Regions from separate parts of the Homo sapiens genome. Here region 1 is linked to region 2. The links come from fine-mapping of genetic effects on plasma protein levels. A gene starts in region 2. The other region holds a variant in brackets. All regions are shown on one strand. Distances are between the middles of the regions. Region 1 overlaps ZC3H18 (zinc finger CCCH-type containing 18). Region 2 holds the start of IL17C (interleukin 17C).

The links. PIP is the chance, under the fine-mapping model, that this variant and not a neighbour inherited with it causes the effect. Protein levels are from antibody-based Olink assays in UK Biobank. Linkage for the fine-mapping came from a reference panel and not from the study's own genotypes, which makes the PIPs less certain.
Region 1: its variant is fine-mapped to the plasma level of the IL17C protein (UK Biobank, PIP above 0.99).

What each region holds. Positions count from the first base shown.
Region 1 is chr16:88,616,792-88,619,690 of GRCh38, reverse strand. All of the region lies in intron 8 of ZC3H18 (zinc finger CCCH-type containing 18), which reads right to left. Among named protein-coding and RNA genes, the nearest start is that of IL17C, 20 kb to the left of the region's middle. The variant C/A (reference allele first, on the strand shown) is at 1,604.
Region 2 is chr16:88,637,251-88,640,069 of GRCh38, reverse strand. IL17C (interleukin 17C) reads right to left here and starts at 1,498. Exons shown (of 3, transcript NM_013278.4): 1 at 1,423-1,498; 2 at 761-1,089; 3 at 1-256. The coding sequence starts at 1,428. It overlaps LOC124903755 (a long non-coding RNA gene), which reads right to left. Exons shown (of 2, transcript XR_007065181.1): 2 at 2,636-2,819.

The DNA of each region.
Region 1 (2,899 bases), 20 kb after region 2:
CTTGCCCCCTGCCACGGCATGGAAATAAAACCAGCTGAGGTCCAGAGAGGCGGGCAGTGCAGGCCTCCACAATCTCAGGGCAGCTGGTGCTTGCCCCCCAGAAAGAGCTGCTCATTCCCTCTGGAGACAATGATACCGAATTTCAAAATGAAGATGGCCAGAGGCAGGCCCAGCAGGGGTCAGTGAGGTCTCTCCTTCTCTGGGCCAGGGCTGTGGACGGGCCTGCACCATCTCGTCACTGCACAGCGCGCCCTCCGCTGCCGCCGGCCGCACCACCTTCCTTCTGAAGCAGCTGCTTCCAGGCCCATGGAGCAAGGAGGTCCTATCCAGCAAGTCCATGTTACCACGTGTGGGACGTGGTGGTACTGATTTTAACCAGGATGCAGATAACCATTTTTTTCCTTTTTTCTTTTTTTTGAGACAGAGCCTCGCTCTGTTGCCCAGGCTGGAGTACGGTGGTGCGATCTTGGCTCACTGCAAGCTCTGCCTCATGCCATTCTCCTGCCTCAGCCTCCCATTGGACATTATCTCCACTGCACTTTGATAGCGAGTCTCCGGGCACCAAGTCTGCGGCAGAAAGCAAGGCTGAGCACTGGCTTTCTACAGCCCAGGGAACCGAGGCATGTGCCCTTCTCTCAGCAAAGAATGTCACCCCAGGGGACATCCTGATTAGACTTGGAAAAACCAGGCAGATACAAAATAAACAAAACCAAAACACACAACATGGGTGCCCCAGGACAGCCCACCGAGTGCGGCTCAGCTCCTTCACAAGTAGGGGCCTGCGCAGAGGGAGCCAGTGTGGGCTGAGAACGCTCGCAAGGGATGGCCCAGTCAGGAAGGCCCACCTCCAAGCTGGGCCAGGACAGATCTGGAATTTGCATGAACACTTCCAACCGCAGGGGAGAACCCTCCAGATGACCTCTGACTGAGGAAGTAGCCTTTCCCGCAGCACAAGGCCCGCGCTATCATCTGGCCCCCATTCCCCGTTGAAGGCCACAGGAGACTCTCTAAGGGGCAAAGGTCAGCTCCACCACCAATGCAAACATGCCAGAGGCAGACAAAACCAAGGGCCCGAGGCTGGCACACTCATAGCTCATGCCTCACCGATGCCAGCAGCCACACGAGGCGCCACAGATGCCAGGCTGCTACAGGCCACGTGTCCAGAAACTCCAACCCCAGCAGCTGTCAAGTTTGGGGTCAAAGGTGAAAAAGGATAAAAACGCATGAAGGTTCTTTCTTCAATCAAAAGAGCTAAGCATCTACATCAACAAGGGAAAAGGGAGATGGGAGCCTATGGGCCTCCCCGGGCTGAGCCTGCTCAGAGGCAGCTCTGGGAGCACCTCCACAGCAAAGCTTCTCTCCTGGCTTGTTCTGTGAGTGCCTGTGGAGCATTTAGCTACGGGCCACATGCTCTCCCCACCTCCCTTAAAACGTAACAGAAAAAGCCCAAAGCAGACCTGGAGTGCCCGCCCCATGTCTTTACACTTTGCAAAAAAAAAAAAAAGTGGAGTCCAATGGACGACCTGAGTGGCCGTCACCTTCTCTGTGACTTGTGCAGAAGGCCAGGCGGCCTCACTCACACCTGCAAGAGCCAGTCTCAGCG[C/A]AGAGCAGATACAAACACCAGCAACTGCGCCTTCTGTGCGTTCAACTGCACATGAAAATCCCTAACTCCACTAGTCCCTTACCCAGAAGGCTGGTCTAAAATAGGGTTTCTTAACCTTTCTAGGGGAGTCACAAATCCCTCTGAAGAAGACTGTGTAGCCTGGCCCACTCCCAGCAGAGATCTTGAGACTCCTGGGGTGCCTCAAACTGGCAGATGAGAGGGCTCAGCCCAAAAAACTGAGCATGAAGCGGTGGCCCAGGAAGCAGGCGCCCACTGGATGGGCCGCCAAAGGGGTGCGGACTCTGCGGTGTCCGGAACTTACCAGGGAAGAGTGAGAATGAAGAGCCCGGGGTGAGTAGGTGCTGGGGGGCGAGTGCTTCCAGTCTCAGGGGTCCACCCCACAACCCCACCGCAGGAGCCTGCCAAGCTCAAGCCCTGAAGGGGCACCCAAAGCTGCAAAGGTAAACCTGGAAGTTGAATAGCTTGGAGACAGCAGGCAGCCCAGACAGCTCCTGCGGGAAGGTCCCCAATCAGTGTTTACATTTCTAATGACAATGACTAGCCAAAGAGCATCGTAATGACGTGCCTCGGCGGTGAGCACACCCATCGGCCTAGCTATAAAGATTAGGTTTCACATAAGGGACCGCCCCCTTAGCTCTACAGATGCATTTGATAGAATTGATTGAAAGGTTCTGCTCTAATCATTTTAAAACAGCCCAGGTGGAGGAGTGGGTAAGCCTCAAAAGGCAAACTAGGACGGAGAGAGCGGCACAACTCCGTCTCCAGCCGCAGGTCCAGGGGGGAGCTGGTCAAGAAGCCCTGCCAGAGATACCGATGGGGATGAGATCCCGACGGGGACAAGCTAGCCAGTAACTCCCAGAGCCAAACAGCTTAGGCAGTAAGAGAGAACCTCAGGAAAGAGGGGTATTAGCTTAGAGATAAGGAAAAGAAATGGCTCCCCCATGGACAGAGGGCTGGCCATCAGATAGCTCAGGGCAGTGTTTCCTATTGGGGCTCAGCATTATCCTTCCCGGGGGAGGCCCTCAACTCTACCCAGGACACCCATGGCACCCAAACAGTGGCCGACTCTCGCTCCTCCCGCTGCACGACTGTGCCCCCTCTCGTGAAGCTTGGGGTGGTGAAGTGCCTGCTATAACGAGCCTGGGCCGCGCTTCAGACCAAACAAAAGTGACTGCGCTTCACTAGGGTGTAGCCCCCATGCAAGGCCTAGCCCTGGTGCAGCCGTGCTGGACACTGCAGAGCCCCTCATTCGTGTTCTGCTTGGTAGCTGAAGGC
Region 2 (2,819 bases):
CACTGAACGGGGCAGCACGCAGGTGCAGCCGACGGGGACGTGGATGAACTCGGTGTGGAAGGCAAAGGCCCCAGGTGTGGGGAGCCCCGAGCCGTCGCGGGAGCAGGGCCGGCGGCGCAGCACCAGCAGGCTCTGGAGCAGCCGCACGGAGTTGAGCGCAGCTGTCTCGCGGCCCGTCCGTGCATCGATACAGCCTCTGCACAGGCACTCGGCGAAGGCCAGCTTCTGTGGATAGCGGTCCTCATCCGTGTCCACACTGCGGGACGGGGTGCACAGTGAGTCTCTGGCCCTACCCTGTCCTCCTGGAGGCCCCTCTCCCCTCAGGGCCCCTCTCCGTGTACTCAGGATAGGACCTGAGGCAGCGAGGGCTGAGCCACACGGGCTTGGGGTGCAGTCGGGCTCACATGTGGTGGTAATCCACGTCTCCCCAGGGCCCTCCAAGAGCACAGAGCAGGGTCCGGAGGCCTCTAGGAGCCTCCCTTCCACTTCATCACCCAGCCCCACTTCTGCAGGAGCTCAGGTGACGGGCCCAGAATTTCCCCAGGGGACCCTGGCCACCTAGGACAGTGGGAGGCAGGGCACGGCCAGCCGCAAGCAGCAGCTCAGCCGTCCAGGTCAGGAGGGCCGGAGGGAGGGAGCTCAGGTGGCCACGCCCACTTGACAGGTGAGAACCACCAAGGCCCAGAGAGCTCTCCGGGCAGTCAGGGCCCCGCCAGGGGAGGGGCAGCCCCACGCCACAGCGGAATCCCCAGGTCCTCACCGGTATCTCCAGGGTGAGATGGAGCGCTGGTGGGTGTCTGCCTCCAACACCTCCTCCGGCCGCAGCACCGGGCACTGGGTCGTAGCTGAGGGCCTCTCGTGCCTCCCCCTGTGGCTTGCTGCCTCCAGGCTGGACACCAGGGCTACAGGCAAAGCCTGCCCCCACTTGGCACCTCGAGCCAGCAGGTGTGGGGGGGCCTGGCCGAGGGGCAGTTCCTCAGCCGAGTAGCAGTGTGGGGTACCGTGACTGTGGGGGTGCCCCCTGAGGGAGGGGTCATGGTGGGCCAGGCATGTGTGCAGCCAGGTCAGAAACAGGAGGCCGGGGAGGAGCTGGTGAAACAGGCAGGTGGGTGGTTAGGAGGTGCCCAGGGCAGGGGGCACCTCACTTCCACCTCAGCTTTCCTTGTTCCCAGCGGAAAGATGGAGTACAGCCCTCCCTCTATAGATGGGGAAACTGAAGCCCAGAGAGGCTAGCCCTTCAGCCCAAGACACCCAGCATGCCAGCGCTCCGAGGATCTGCAGCTGCCTCCCCTACCCCCAGACTGAGGGGTTTCCCAGACCCCATCCCAACACCCTCCTCCCAGGCTCAGAGAACCCCAGCCCTTCCATGCCAGGCTGCACATCCAAGCAGCATCCATCCGAGCGGCATGTGGAGAGGCTCACCGTCATGGTGGCGGCAGCGGGGCAGGCTGGGCTTGGAGCGGCCTGCACACCTGGCGGCAATCCCACAGGTGCACCTGGCCATGCACCTGGCAGCAGCCGCTCTTATACCTGAGGCCACACCTGGGGGAAATTCCGGCACCACTTCCTCCTCGGGAAGTGCCCAGCTGGGGCGCTTCTTCCTTCTCTGGTCCCCGCAGCCCCCGCCTGCTGTGCATCAGGACACAGACATGCAAGGAGGCCCCGGGAGGCGCTGTCCTGTTACCCCCCTCCCCCGAGAGAGACTCCGCCCAACCTGAGCACCTACACAGGGTGCTGCCTTGTCTGACATTCTCAAACTTTTTTTTTTTTTTTGAGACAGGGTCTTGCTGTCACCCGAGCTGGAGGGAAATGGTGCTGTCCCAGCTCACTGCAACCTCCACATCCCAGGTTCAAGCGATTCTCCTGCCTCAGGCTTCCGAGTAGCTGGGATTACAGGCACCCCCCACCATGCCTGGCTAATTTTTGTATTTTTAGTACAGACAGGGTTTTGCCATATCGGCCAGGCTGGTCTGAGGCTCCTGACCTCAAGTGATCTGCTCGCCTTGGCCTCCCAAAGTGCTGGGATTACAGGAGTGAGCCACTGCGCCCAGCCTTGAACCTCCTATAAGAGGGTTTCTGCTTGCGTATCCGTCAGCACCTTGCTGATTCAACTTGTAGGTTTTCATCTGGACCTGATGGTGGCGGGGCGCTTTTGCACCCTATACAGTTCTTCTCCGTCTGCTGCTGGTGGGTGCCAAGGGTGGTTCAGTGTTTTAGCTGAGATGGTCAAGATCAGGTGAGGCTCACGTGCCCCCTTCACCCAGGTGGGAGAGGTCCCGGAGATGGGGGAGGCAGGCACGTCTTCAGGTCTCTGTTGGGTTTCTGTGTTGTTTTTTTTTTTGTTGTTTTTTTGAGGCGGAGTCTGACTCTGTCGCCCAGGCGGGGAGTACAGTGGTGCGATCTCGGCTCACTACAAGCTCAGCTTCCTGGGTTCACGCCATTCTCCTGCCTCAGCCTGCCGGGTAGCTGGGACTACAGGCGCCCGCCACCACACCTGGCTAATTTTTTTGTATTTTTAGTAGAGACGGGGTTTCACCATGTTAGCCAGGATGGTCTCGATCTCCTGACCTCGTGATCTGCCCACCTCGGCCTCGCAAAGTGCTGGGATCACAGGCATGAGTCACTGCACCCGGCCTGGGCTTCTGTGGTTTTATTGAGAAAAAAGTTCAAGCTAAAAAGTCTGAGTTGGAGGTGTGAGGAGTGAGGTGTGAGGTGTGAATGAGGCATGAGGCGTGAGGCGTGAGGTGTGAGGTGTGACCAGCACACACAGGAAGCTTTATGTAAGCGGGGCCGGGAGCTGCCTTTGGCCTCCTTGATCG